2 linked regions of the Homo sapiens genome follow. The protein of the gene in region 1 interacts with the protein of each later gene in a pairwise test. Each region holds a gene or a part of one and is shown on either strand. Other genes may lie near its edges.

Region 1 (7,894 bases):
GGCAATTTTCTCCGATTTTCCCATCTTTGATTTTAAAACCTACAAAGACAAGAACACAAAAGTAAATATAGTTTCTAGATAAAAATCAGTTATGAACCTCATATCACATATCTAGTTTTGTTGTGTTTAAGTTTGCCCACAGCCATAGAAAAGAACAAAATTATGTTCTTTGTGACAACACGTATGTAGCTGGGGGCCATTACCCTAGACGAATTAATGCAGAAACAGAAAACCAAATATCGCAAGTTCTCACTTACAAGTGAATTTGGGAGCTAAACACTGGGTACAACATGGATATAGTGGGGAACAACAACAGACACTAGGCACTACTAGAAGGGGGGTTGAGAGAGAGATGGGGACCTACTGGGTACTATGCTCACTACCTGGAATGGGATCATTCATACTCCAAACCTCAGCATCACGAAATATACCCATGTAGCAAACCTGCACAAGTACCTCCTTGATCTAAAATAAAAGCTGAAAATTACAAAAACTTTAATTGGGCATGGTGGCTCACGCCTGTAATCCCAGCACTTTGGGAGGTCAAGGCAAGCAGATCGCTCAAGCTCAAGGAGTTCGAGACCAGCCTGGGCAACATAGCGAAACCCCATGTCTACTACAAATATAAAAATCAGCCCGGCGTGGTAACACGCGCCTCGGGAGGCTGGCTGAGGCGGGATCCCTTCAGCCTGGGAAGGGGAGGATGCAGTGAGCAGAGATCGATCGTGCCACTGCATTCCAGCCTGGAGTGCGATAGAGGCAGACTCTGTCTCAAGAAAAAAAAAACAACAAAAAACTTAAATTTCCCTTGACTTTTAAGTTCACTCTTGTTCGCCACTAAAAATGCAGTTAATCACCACTGCTAGTTACCAGTATGCAACGTGAACCAGTTCTAAAATGTCAAACTAAAAAAAGTCTGAAATAACCCAAGTCCACCTTTCTACAACTGTAAGGAAGACTAATGAGCTCTCTTCCAAATACGAGTGCCAGAAACAATCTTTGCTGTGTACCTCCTTTCTGGTTTAGTAACTGCTTCAAGAACGCTGCTTCACTCACCTTAATCTTTCCCAACTTAAGTGGGCCTTATAGGAAGTCTTGAAAGGATGGAAAAGCGTAAGGTAATCCACTAGATCACTGCACTACCAACACTTGTAACGCGGTAGTAAGCAAGACACGACACGAAAGAGGACCACAACTTTCCACGTCAATAAGGTTCACTGCCAGAGCTCCCTAGTTAGTACCTGTTCTAGAAAACAGGCCAGGAAACAAGCACAAAAGCTTTTAGGTAATCACGGATATTTCAAAAGTCGTGGAATTTTAAAAGGGAGACATTGAGACGATAATTTAAAGAAACAAGGTGGGCAAATTTTTTCCCAAGGGCACAGATAAACCGCAAATCTCTAATTCAATGCAACATTCTTCACTAAATAACGGGAACTTTTTCATTTCATTATTACGAAGATTAAGTCATTGAACTTAAGTCCATAAAACGTTATTCTGACAAGACTTTGAAATCATTTCGTAGACTTAATCCTATTTAAACTTCTATCCATTTTATCCTAATGCAATAGCACTGCAATCAGACGGGCTAAGTCAATTCAATTGCTAACTCTTCTGAAAACTTACTCTGGACACACTAACACGAAGTACCACAGTGGCAAAAGTAATAAAATCAGTTTTGTGCGGCTCCTGCCAACTCTTAACTTGGAACCACTAAGTAGGTCAGGCCCGAGGCGGGCAGAGCCCCAACTGGACTGCGCGTCCCACACCGGGCACCTCACATTTTGGCACAACTCCAACCAAACGAAACCCAGCCGCTCGGAGCCCACTCCACCCCCTACGGCGGGACGTTAGAGGCCGTCTCCGCGTTTCACCGACTAGGACTGGGGCTCCCGATAGCCGGGAGGCCGAAAGCCGGGCCCAGTCCTTCCCCAGCTGCCCCCACCCGGCCTCGCCTCCTTCATGGGCGCCGGAGCGCCGGGCACGTAGCGCGCGCTGACGTCAGCCCTCCCGCGGGCCCTGTCCCTGCCCCCACCCCGCCGCGCGCCCGGAACGCCGAAACCCCCTGGAACGCCGCCAGCCTTCTAAATCGGGGCTGTTGCTGGGGCGCAGCGGCGCTTCTCATTGGCCGACTCCTGGGAGCCAATCAGAAGCGCCAGCGCATGCCTCCCCTTCCCCCTTCTTCCCCCAAAGCAAGAATGGAGCGGGCGTCACGGAAACTTCCCTCCCGAGTAAACAGCCGCCCCCCCCACCCCGCCCCCACCCGCCCGACCCCCCGGGTGCAGGGTCTGCAGCCCCAGAGCTCGGCCGCGACCGTCTAAGGGCCCGACTCCCCAACGGCCCCCTGGCGGCCTCACCTCTTTCCTGAGGGGGGTTTGGCCGGGAGCCGCGGGCCGCAGCGGGGCAAGGTCGGGGCTGGCTCCCTCCGTGCCGGCTGCGGCTGCAGGACTCGGGGCCAAGGCGGCGGCCGGGCCCGGGACCTCCTGCGCTCCGCTCGGGCCGGTCGCGGGGCTCCGGCCGCCCTCCAGACTCGGCCGGTGCTGCTGGTACTGGTGGAAGCGGCTGGGCAGCTGCCCTGCGGGGCTGGCCCGCACCTTCTTCTTTCGCCGCTTCTTCGGCGCTGCCCGAGGAGTGCCTCCCGCCACGGCGAGGCTGCGGTTGGGCAGAGCTGCTGGAGCGCGAGGCTGGGGGGTCAGACACGGGCCATCTCCCCCTAGGAAATGAGGGAGGAAGAGGGTCGGGGGCAGTGCCCGGGGGTCCGGGATCCGGGGTAAAGGAGGCGGAGCCGTGGTCACCATCGGGAGGGCCCCAAAGTAACCTCGGGAGGAAAAGCCAAGCGGCGCAAGGCGGCCACCCAGGACGAGCGGCTCCCGCTGCGGGACGGAGACGACAGTCATAGCGCTAGGAAGCTTGTCGCTCAGCAACGAAGAGAGAAGGAGAAGGTGAATGAAGCCAGTGAAGATAGGGTGGCGGCGATGGATGCTGCTAGGAGAGCCTGAGAAGATCGCGGAACATGACTCGGGCGGTGGCGGCGCAGCAACAAATAGCCACAGCCCCAGCTCCGAGTGTTGTTATCGGAAGCTCCGCCCCGCGCCCGCCCACTTTCCTGCGAAAGCCCAATTAGAGTGCGACAAGGCAGGCCACGCCCCCTCGCTCCGCCTCCGCAGCTTCGGGTAGACACACACAAACAACCAGCTTGCTGCAGCCTGGCACAAAGAGGGCGCACTGCGCAGGCGCTGCCAGCGAGCTCTTTTGGGAAGAATCGGTCCCGCGAACAATGAAATTGGGTTTCCGCCCCACCCTCTTTACTCCTCCCCAGCACGCCCCTGCGCTTCGCCGGGCTAGGGAGTGGTGGTACTGAAATGTCCCGGCGGAGTTTGTTGATGGGGGTGGGGAAGGGAGGGGGCAGGGGGAGGGCGGCAGGAAGAACGGGGGCTGGGAAGAGGGGATGACTTTGGCAAGGCCACGGTTGCCTCCTCCGCTGCTGACCTTGGGGAAGTATCCGTTTTATTTTCAGCCCAACATAACAGCGTTATCATTTTAAAACAAAGATTTCTAAGTACGCTGTAAGGATTTCTTCCCTAGCAATCGTGAAGAAAATCAGTCTACATTTAAATTTTATCTACTGAAGTATGGCTCACGATTCTTTCATTTACTTGGTTCGGCATCGCTGCTTATTAGTCTCGGTGATCAGAGTAAAAATCAAAGTGACTTACTGATTGAATTAGCCCCTCGATGTATAAAAAGTTCTCCGTAAATCCATAAATGGAAGTTGGAGTTTTTACTGATTTCATACTTGAAGGATTGTGAGACTTTGGGATCAGAACATTGTGCCTGGTTACTTGAGGAGGCGGCAAGCCGGCTTGCGTCTCAAAGGGAGAAAGTGAAACAGCTCTGCAACATAGAGTATTTTGTTAGCTGCGCGTAAATAGAAATTTTTCGCGATCTCCCCGCACTGCTCAACCACAAAAAAGAATTGTGGCCATAATTTATCAAGCATTTATGTTCCAGGAACTGTTCTTTACATAGATTGTCTCACTTTAACCTCACAACAACCCTTACGAATAGGTACTAAGAAAAATAGATCAGACCTCAGCTCTGCGAAGTAGGCAGGCTGTCATTCTCTTCCTTTCACTACTAATGCCTGGGGCAATTGTTTAAAGGCATTTTGTTCCTGATTAGCTGCCTACGCATTATCTTTAAGTTTCTGAAATTTAAGATACAAAGAACAATGTATAGCTAGTCAAGAGCCCACGATATTTTAATGTAAATTGGTAAACAATTTAGGAGCTGCCTCTTTTCCTTTAAAAACCTACTTGTAACTTGCTAATCCGAGTGTATATTCAGGGCAGCTTGAATCTATGGTCCTGGGTTGCAGTCCTCAAGCTTGGCCTGATTTTGCCTCAGCTTCTTTTTGGAGGGACAGTACTGTATTTTATTCCCATTTTACAGCTGGGGAAACAGGCTTAGAAAGGCTAAAGGACTTGTCAAAGATCAAACGGTAAGTTAACATCAGAATTTGATCTCCAGTCCAGGTACTGCAAGACAAAAGTTTTAATTTTTTTTTTTTTTTTTTTGAGACGGCGTGTCACTCTGTGGCCAGGCTGCAGTGCAGTGGCGCCATCTCGGCTTACTGCAACCTCCGTCTCCCTGGTTCAAGAGATTCTCCTGCCTCAGCCTCCCTAGTAGCTGGGATTACAGGCACCCGCCACGCCCAGCTAATTTCTGTATTTTTTAGTAGAGACGGGGTTTCACCTTGTTGGCCAGGATGGTCTTGATCTCCTGACCTCGTGATCCGCCTGCCTCGGCCTTCCAAAGTGCTGGGATTACAGGCGTGAGCCACCGCGTCCAGCCCTGCCACACTAGATTCTACATTATTAGAAGACCACAGTAATCTTACACTTCTGTATCCTCACCGCCTCTACAATAGTTTTCAGCTTTGGAGTAGTAAGCAATTAGTAAGCAATGAAACGTTTTATGATTGATGGCAAAGTTGGACAGATTGCATATCCAGAAAAATGCTTCCCAATCACTTTATAAACTTTTTTTTTTTTTTAGACGGGGTTTCTTTCTGACACTCAGATTGGAGTGCAATGGCATGATCTCGGATTACAGCAACAGCCGCCTCCCAGGCTCAAGAGATCCTCCAACCCCAGCCCCCCACGCCCCTGAGTAGCTGGGACCACAGGCACACACCACCACTCCTGGCTAATTTTTTGTGTTTTTAGTGGAGACAGGGTTTCACCATGTTGCCCAGGCCGGTCTCAAACTCCTGAGCTCAAGCCATCTGCCTGTCTCAGCCTCCCAAAGTGATGGGATTACAGGAGTGAGCCACCAAACCCAGTCAACCTTATAAGCTTTTAAAACTACATTTCAGGCCAGGCGTGGTGGCTCACACCTGTAATCCTAGCACTTTGGGAGGCCGAGGCGGCTGGATTACCTAAGGTCAGGAGTTTGAGACCAGCCTGGCCAACATGGCGAAACCCTGTCTCTACTAAAAATATAAAAATTAGCTGGGCATACAGGCTAATGTGCCTGTAATCCCAGCTACTAGGGGGGCTGAGGCAGGAGGATCGTTTAAACCTGGGAGGTAGAGGTTGCAGTGAGCCGAGATCATGCCACTGCACTCCAGCCTGGGCAACAGAGCAATACTCCATCTCAAAAAACAAAAAAGAAACCAAAAAAACTCCATTTCATTCCAATTGCTGAATTTTACTCATTTTTGTTTCTGCAACATGTAATGCATAGTAAGTGCTCATGTTCATTGGATGGATGGGAATCATGGACATCCAGAGCTGTAAAAGAATCTACTTTTTCAAAGCACTTTCCATCTGTCATCTCATTTTATTCTTACTCTAGCACTTTAAGGTTGATATAGAGAGGTCCTATTTAACGTATGGTGTAAATAAATTTAAATATATAGTAACTTGCTTGGGGGGGGGGGTTCACAAAATGAGGTAGGAATAACTCGAACTCCTGATGCCTAGTCCAGTGTTCTTTTCACTATATCCCATGATTTTAGGCTTGACTTTATCTGGGGATAATATCATACTGTCCTAGAGAATAATTTACCCTTCAGGGAGCTGGTCATTGGTAGCCAGCTCTGTGGGGCCCTTGGTCAAAGATACCTATTATTGTCTATGTGTATTTCTTGGGTGATTGTTGGAGTAATTATGTGTATAACTTATCATTTTGAGGCCTTAAGTGTAGGCTTCATGTTTGCCCTGGGTTCTGTACTGTAAGAAAAGTAACCTTGCAGCTGTGACCACCTGGGTGATGGGTGCTGAGATTGCTAAAATGGTGCCCACCACTAAGAAACAGAATGGGAGCTGAAATGGGGCACTTAGAAGAGAGAGGTCGAGGTTTTATAAGCCAGATGATTGGATTTAATGTTACTCTGTGTGGGTAGTCTTTGTAAACCCTTAGTCTTTAGTAAAGTCTAATTTTAATGTTTAAACCTAAGCGTTACAGGTTTAAACATATAGTGTTAGCTGTGCTATATGATATAAAGGAAAAAGATCAGGCTGGGTGCAGTGGCTCACGGATGGCAAGGTGGATGGATCACTTGAGGTCAGGAGTTGGAGACCAGCCTGGCCAACATGATGAAACCCTGTCTCTACTAAAAATACAAAAATTAGCCAGTTGTGGTGGTGCATGCCTGTAGTCCCAGCTACTTGGGAGGCTGAGGCAGAAGAATCACTTGAACCTGGGAGGTAGAGGTTGCAGTGAGCCGAGATCACGCCACTGCACTCTAGCCTGGGCGACAGAGCAAGACTTCATCTCAGGGAAAAAAAAAAAAAAAAAAAAAATCAGATCCTTTTGCTTGGGCCCAAAAGGCCAAACTTGGAGGTAACAAGATATTCCAAGGGTAAAGGAAATTTTAGGAGAATTCTCAGAGTTCTTGAAGCTTTTTGCTCCAGTGTACATCTTGATTTTATTTTTGTTAAGCTAATCTTTAGAGGAGGTTAGAAGAAAAATAAAAGATTGGAAAGTAAACTAGGTATTAAATAGCAGAAAAAAGAGGTAATGCCCATTTATGAAATAAGCAGCTTACCCGCATTGACACTAAGCAGAACTCCAAATTCCACTTCTCTCTCTTCTATCTACCTTTGTCTCTCGTGTATTTTACCTCTGTCCTCTTTCTCTCCCTCTCTCTGTATGAAATGTCATTTTCTTTCCTCCTACCCTGAATGTCTTTTTTCCTCTTTATATAGACTTTATTACCATTTTTTCTACCTATTATTACTTAGATTTTTTTTTCTTTTTCTTTTTTGAGACAGGGCTTCACTCTGTCACCCAGGCTGGAGTGCAGTGGTGCGATAACAACTCACTGCAGCCTCCACCTCTGGCGTTCAGGAGATTCTCACACCTCATCCTCCCTAGCTGGCGCATGCCACCATGTCTGCTAATTTGTGTGTGTGCGTGTTTGATAGAGACAGGGTTTTGCCATGTTGCCCAAGCTGGTCTCGAACTCCTGAGTTCAAGTGATCCAACCACTTTGGCCTCCCAAAGTGCTGGGATTACAGGCATGAGCCACCTCACCCAGCCTATTGCTTAGATCTGTAATGTCTAAGGTGTGAGGGACACCTGTGTGAAAAGAGGAACACTTAATCAAACTTCTATTTTGCTTTTTTTTTTTTTTTAGACGGTGTCTCACTCTGTTGCCCAGGCTGAAGTGTAGTAGTGTGATCTCAGCTCGGCTCACTGCAACCTCCACCTCCCAGGTTCAAGTGATTCTCCTGCCCCAGCCTCCTGAGTAGCTGGGATTACAGGTGCATGCCACCATGCCTGGCCAATTTTTGTATTTTTAGTAGAGATGGGGTTTCACCATGTTGGCCAGGCTGGTCTCAAACTCCTGACCTCAGGTGACTCGCCCGCCTCAGCTTCCCAAAGT
Region 2 (7,000 bases), on another chromosome or scaffold:
TTTTTACAAAACTAAACAGAGTCTTACCACATTGTCCAAAGGTCAAGCTCTTAAGTATTTACCCAACTGATTTGAAAACTCATGTCCACATAACTACATGAATATTTATAGCAGCTTTATTCGTAATCAGCAGCTTTATTCATAATCAAAAACTGGAAGCAACCAAGGTATCCTTCAATAGGTGAATGGATAGACAAACCAGAATAGTATTCAGTTATAAAAAGAAATAAGCTATCATGAAAAGATATGAGTAAATCTTAAATGCATATTGCTAAGTAAAAGAAGCCAGTCCGAAAAGGCTACATACTGTATGATTACAACTATATGACATACTGGAAAAGGCAAAACTAGACAGACTAAAAAGATCGGGGTGAGGGCAGGGATGGTAGGGAAAGTTGAATAGGTGAAGCATGAGAAATATTTCTAGGGTGGTGAAATTATTTTGTATGACAGAAGCATTAACCAAATTTGGAAGCCCACCCAAGCTTTGCTGTCCAAAGTTTTTATTAGGGTTTCATTATACAGGCATGATTGATTGAATCCTTGGTCATGTGAGTGAATTCAATCTCCAGCTCCTCTCTTCTCCCAAGAGATTGGACTGATGTCATGTGGCCCAAAGCCCCAACCCTCTAATCATGCGGTTGGTCTTTCCAGCATGGACAACTCCTATCCTGAAACTATTTAGAGTCCTATCAGGAGTCACCTTGTTAGCATAAACCCAGGTGTGATCTAAGGGATTCACCATGAATAACAAGGCCTATTGGGAAATTCCAAAGATGTAGAAGTTATTTCCTAGGAAAAAGGGACAAAGTCTAGCCAAATTTTTTTCTTTTTTTTTTTTTTTGAGACATGGTCTGGCTCTGTCACCCAGACTGGAGTGCAGTGGCACAATCACAGCTCACTGCAGCATCAACCTCCTGGGCTCAAGCCATCCTCCCACCACAGCCTTCCAAGTAGCTGGGACTATAGGCACGTGCCACCATGCTCAGCTAATTTTTGTATTTTTGTAGAGACAGGGTTTTACTATGTTACCCAGGCCTGTCTTGAACTCCTAGACTTAAAGATCTGCCCACCTCAGCCTCCCAAAGTGCTGGGATTACAGGCATAAGCCACCATGCCTGGCCCAAATTCTTCATGTTTACAACCCAGTGAAATTTGGGTTCCTCAGTGTTGGGGTGAGTAGTTACAGACAAACAAGGAAAGTTAGAATGATCCATGTAGTAATGGATTAGACTTGAAAACATCAGTATGGACTCTTGTGTAATTTAATATAAATAATATAGATGGTTATATTTAGAAATATTGAGTATAGCTATGTATATATACAAGGGTTAATATGCGCACATAAATCTCGTGCTGCCAACTGAGAAGGCCTAGAAGTGATGACATCCCGATGGCAATGAACACATCTAGTGCCCAAGTCGTGGTTTCTATCATGCAATAAAATGAACATGTAGAAAATGCTCCTGACGGCTGGGCAGGGTGGTTCATGCCTGTAATCCCAGCACTTTGGGAGGCCAAGGAGGGTGGATCACCTGAGGTCAGGAATTAGAGACCAGCTTGGCCAACATGGTGAAACCCCATCTCTACTGAAAATACAAAAAAATTAGCTGGGCATAGTGACGGGCGCCTGTAATCCCAGCTACTCGGGAGGCTGAGACAGGAGAATCGCTTGAACCTGGGAGGTGGAGGTTGCAGTAAGCTGAGATCGTGTGCCATTGCACTCCAGCCTGGCAACAAGAGCGAAACTCCGTTTCAAAAAAAAAAAGAAAAGAAAATGCTCTTGACATCTTGTAGTGCTAGAAAGTAAGAAAGTGCTACAATAGCTGGACACGGGGGCTCATGCCTGTAATCCCAGCACTTTGGGAGGCTGAGGCGGGAGGATCACGAGGTCAAGAGATCGAGACCATCCTGGCCAACATGGTGACACCCCCGTCTCTGCTAAAAATACAAAAATTAGCTGGGCATGGTGGCACATGCCTGTAGCCCCAGCTACTCGGGAGGCTGAGGCAGGAGAATCACTTGAACCCAAGAGGCAGAGGTTGCAGTGAACCAAGATTGCACCAGTGCACGCCAGCCTGGGCGACAGTGCAAGACCCTGTCTCCAAAAGAAAAAAAAAAGTGCTAAAATACACACACACACGATGGGAGCATAGCAAAGGGATACAGGAACCAAGTGAAAAGCTTCCAATGCCCAAAGCATTCCAAAGCTTCCAGTGTGGGAATAACAATGAAGTATCTGAATGTAAATCAAAGTATAAAATAAATACTCATGAGTCCATAGTGATAGAAATACGGTGTTTGAGAAACTGTCACAACTAAAAGAAGCCTGAGAGAGATGACTAAATGTAGTATGATGTCCTGGATGGAATCCTGGAGCAGAAAAGGAACATTAGGACTAATGAAATCTGAATAAAGTATGGCATTTAGTTAGTAATGATTTATCAATATTAGTTCATTAATTGTGACAAGTGTACCACACTAATCCAAGATGTTAAAAATAGGGGAAACAGCATGATGTATATAGGAGCTCTGTGTACTATCTTTGCAATAATTTTGTACATCTTAAACTGTTCCAAAATATAGGTGTTTTTGTTTTTGGAAATTGTTATCTTATAAACACATGAACTGTGCATGTTCTTTCCTAGGCCTCAAAAAAGAAGGTGTATATGCTCTATAACCTGCAGCCAGACCGGTCTGTGACTGGTGGAGCCTGGTACAGTGACCAGGATTTTGAATCTGAATTTGTAGAGGTGCTTAACCAACAGTGTTTTAAATTCCTACAGTCCAAGGTGAGGTATGATTGAGGAAACATCACTGCAAACCCTCTTGTAAAAAGTTTTTCACAAAGGATTTTAATCTATTTATCATATTTTATAGGAATTAAAAACCTGAAATTGGGAATTTTTACTTAACTAAATATGTTCTGTTGTTGGTTTGACTCAGTATAAAGTGTATTCAGAAAACACACCAATATTCTTATTTACATTTCTTATGTTTCAATCCTTATAGGCAGAAACAGCACGAGAAAGCAAACAGAACCCAATGATACAAAGAAATAGTTCATTTGCCTCATCACATGAAGTGTGGAAATATATCTGCGAATTGGGAATCAGTAAGGTCAGAACTGAATTTCATCTTATTTTTTAAAACTTATTCTTTGTCACATACAATGTATTCCAAACATGTATTTGACCCACATTGTTTTTTTTTTTTGAGATGATAGCTACGAACATTCTGCAGAATCCACTTTGGGAAAATACTGTCCTGTATCTTAGGCAAAGGCAGTCACTGCCATTGGGCATTGTCTGAACTGATACTCAGCTTGGGACACTGATGCTTTTTTTATTTTTTTGGAGGTAGGGTCTCATTTTGTTGCCCAGGCTGGTTTTGAACTTCTGGACTCAAGTGATCCTCCTGCGTTGGCCTCCCAAAGTGCCACTGTACCCTAGCCTTTTGAAATTCTTTTTTTAAGGACACTGATGCTTTTCACAGTGAAGAAATCAAAGTGGCCATTTTGGACATGTCACTTTAATTTCCTGGGCCTCAGATTTCTCATAAAAACTAGGAACTTGGACTATTTGATGTCTAAAGTGCCTTTCTGCTCAAGCATTTTATAAATCTCCAATAAATTCCTGCTAAAGAAATGTTATTTTTTATAAGATTTCTCGATTTTACTTAGGAAGTAAAGATACCAGAAAGTGTCAAACTCAGCATGAGCTTAGAGTTCTGTCCCTGGCACCTCAGTGGTTTGTGCTAACTTGGCCTATTGTTCCTCCTCTTTGTGCTTTAAATTACTCCACCCCAGCATAATGTTTCTCCCATTTCACAGCAGAATTATGACCCTTTACTGTTTTATTTATTTATTTGAGATGGAGTTTGGCTCTTGTTGCCCAGGCTGGAGTACAGTAGTGCGATCTCAGCTCACTGCAACTTCCGTCTCCCGGGTTCAAGCCATTCTCCTGCCTCAGCCTCCCGAGTAGGTGGGATTACAAGTGCCTGCCACCATACCCAGCTAATTGTATTTTTAGTAGAGACAGGGTTTTGCCATGTTGGCCAGGCTGGTCTCGAACTCCTGACCTCAAGTGATCCACCTGCCTCGGCTTCCCAAAGTGCTGGGATTACAGGCGTGAGCCACTGCGCCCAGCAACCCTTTACTGTTTTTAACACCCTCCAAGTGGATGTCTCCCTATCCTACTTGTGTCCTTTCTGATGTATCCCTTTTTTAGGTAGAGTTATCCATGGAAGACATTGAAACCATCCTGAATACACTCATTTATGATGGAAAAGTGGAGATGACGATTATTGCTGCAAAAGAAGGCACAGTTGGCAGTGTAGATGGACACATGAAACTGTACAGGGCAGTCAATCCAATCATCCCTCCCACAGGTTTGGTCCGGGCACCCTGTGGACTCTGCCCGGTGAGTTAAAGTGGCTTCACTTTACACTTGACTGCCCACGGGTGCAAGTGCCACATTAAGAAACAGAGCAAGCACAGCCCAGTTTTCTCAGACTCTTAGGGTTGACCAAGAGCTATTCAAACCTCCATGAAACCTTGATGAACAGACCTTTAATGAACACATCATTCCTTTACTTTTTTTTTTTTTTTTTTTTTTGAGACGGAGTCTCACTCTATCACCGAGGCTGGAGTGCAGTGGCACAATCTTGACTCATTGCAACCTCCAACTCCCGGGTTCAAGCAGCTCTCCTGCCTCAGCCACCTGAGTACCTGAGATTATAGGCACCCACCACCATGCCCAGCTAATTTTTTTTATTTTTAGTGGAGACGGGGTTTCACCATGTTGGCCAGGCTGGTCTCGAACTCCTGACCTCAGGTGATCCCCTCAGCCTCCCAAAGTGCTGAGATTACAGGCATGTGCCCCTGTACCTGGCCCCCTGCTTTACATTCTTTCTTGGAACAACCACATTAAGGATATTTACGTTTTCTGCTCTTGGCCTTGAAATGGACACTTTTTGATGAGGGCTAATCATTTCACCTAAATAGGGCAGAAAATGAGATTTGTTGAGAACCTACCTTGGGCCAGATATGTCCTTGATGATTTCCATAGGCGGTCTCATTTAATCCTCCTTACATTCTTGAAGCTAGTGGTGTTATTTCCCCTTAAAAGTGAGGGAGCTTAGGCTTAGGAAGACATAGGGGCATACAGCTTAGAAGTAACCGGGATTCAAACCCAGAGATCATGTCTTTCCCCTGCAGCATGCCCCAGCACTCCTCCTTCATTCATTCCCAAATATTGTAAGTGCCAACTCTATGCTCTAGGCACTAAGGATACAAGAGAAAGCAAGAGACACTGTCCCAGTCCTCATGGCATTTATAGATGAGCCTGTGTGTGTTTTATTTCATTATACCAACCTTTGTCTATATGCCTAAGCTCTCTATGCCTTGGTTTCAGTCCCTAGACAAAAGGCTAACATATTAGGAATTCTGTTTTGCACCCTTCACAAAAAGGTAGCTAAACATGAAACATTTGGTTAATCAAAATTAAGTCATTCATATGTATAGGTCTCCCTGCCCATATTCCTGTGTTACCTGGTGATAGCCTTTTGCCCAGCAGACAGGTGAGCATGGTCATCTTAATGCCACAGTAAAAAAAGCCTCTCTACTACTCCTAACTTGATGATCACAAAGCAGGCCCTATTATAGTATGTTCTTCCCGCTCCCCCCTCGCCCCCCGAGATGGAGTCTTGCTGTCGCCCAGGCTGGAGTGCAGTGGCACGATCTTGGCTCACTACAACCTCTGCCTCCCAGGTTCAAGCAATTCTCCTGCCTCAGCCTCCCGAGTAGCTGGGATTACAGGTGCCTGCCACCACGCTCAGCTAATTTTTGTATTCTTAGTAGAGACGGGGTTTCACCATGTTAGCCAGGATGGTCTTGACCACCCACCTCGGCCTCCCAAAGTGCTGGGATTACAGGTGTGAGCCACTGCGTCCGGCTATAATATGTTCTTAAGTACAGTCCTAGTCCCTTTCAGTTTGAAAGTTTTGTTTTTAATCTTGCTTTAAATAAGTGGTTGGGTCTTAGATATTTTAAAACTTTAATTTGAATATAATTTTTTTTTCTTTTTTAAAGGTTTTTGATGACTGCCACGAAGGTGGTGAGATTTCACCATCTAACTGTATTTACATGACAGAGTGGCTCGAATTTTAATAGAGAGCTATGAACTTTATTGACATTTTGCAAATGAAGTTACTTAGGGAGCAGATAATTTAATTCATGATGGAACACGAAATCTCCTTGAAAGCAAACTTCACAATAATGGACGTAGACTTGCTGCTATGAAAACATATTTTTTTTATTTATGAAGACTAAATTTATATTGGTAAAATAGCCAGTAGAATATGAAAGAAATAAGGTTAGTAGTGAAATTCATTCTTCAATAAATAAAACACTTTGAAACTCCGGAGGACCACATCTTTCAAGACTTCTGATGGGTCAAGGAAAAAGATGCCAACATACCCGTATTTACCAAGTACTATGATAATGGCTAGAGTATAAAAATGTTCTTTTTAAAGTTATTTATTAAGTTCTTCATTGGAAGTTTTTTTTTATATCTGGTTCACTACCACCATTTTCTGTTTCCTACTTTCTCAGTGGTTTCATTGAAAAGAAATTAGAAGGGGTTAAAGGCAGGAATAGCAAAGAGTGCAAACTTGGGGTATGACTGGGGGAGAGTGGAACATGCCTTTTCCGCACAATATTAATTCCTTTTTGTATCAGAAATGTTCTTTTAGGAGATTATGCTACCATACTTACTTCAAACCCAATGACTACTGTCAAGGACATATTTTCAGTACATAAATACTATCATTTTCATTCTAAAGAATATTTTCACTGTTCCTTCTTTCTTAAAGTCTTATGTTTCACTCTTTAACTCAAATGTATTCTTTGTTAGAATTTACCCTAGATTCTTATTTAATGTCTGCAGTAGACTGAATGTTTGTGTGCCCCCAGAATTCTAATGTTGAAATCTCATTTCCA

Evidence for each region.
Region 2: the proteins of PNRC1 (region 1) and POLR3F interact in binary tests that used the Homo sapiens proteins (3 or more experiments, as listed by UniProt).

What each region holds. Positions count from the first base shown.
Region 1 is NC_000006.12:89,075,898-89,083,791, reverse strand, and holds the start of PNRC1 (proline-rich nuclear receptor coactivator 1), read right to left. Parts: upstream 3,042-7,894; 5' UTR 2,898-3,041; coding exon 2,358-2,897; intron 1,242-2,357; coding exon of another isoform or gene 1,215-1,241; exon of another isoform or gene 1,057-1,214; intron 40-1,056; coding exon 1-39. UniProt on the Homo sapiens protein: Nuclear receptor coactivator. May play a role in signal transduction.
Region 2 is NC_000020.11:18,477,390-18,484,389, forward strand, and holds part of POLR3F (DNA-directed RNA polymerase III subunit RPC6), read left to right. Parts: intron 1-2,648; coding exon 2,649-2,792; intron 2,793-3,012; coding exon 3,013-3,120; intron 3,121-4,229; coding exon 4,230-4,421; intron 4,422-6,091; coding exon 6,092-6,169; 3' UTR 6,170-7,000. UniProt on the Homo sapiens protein: DNA-dependent RNA polymerase catalyzes the transcription of DNA into RNA using the four ribonucleoside triphosphates as substrates.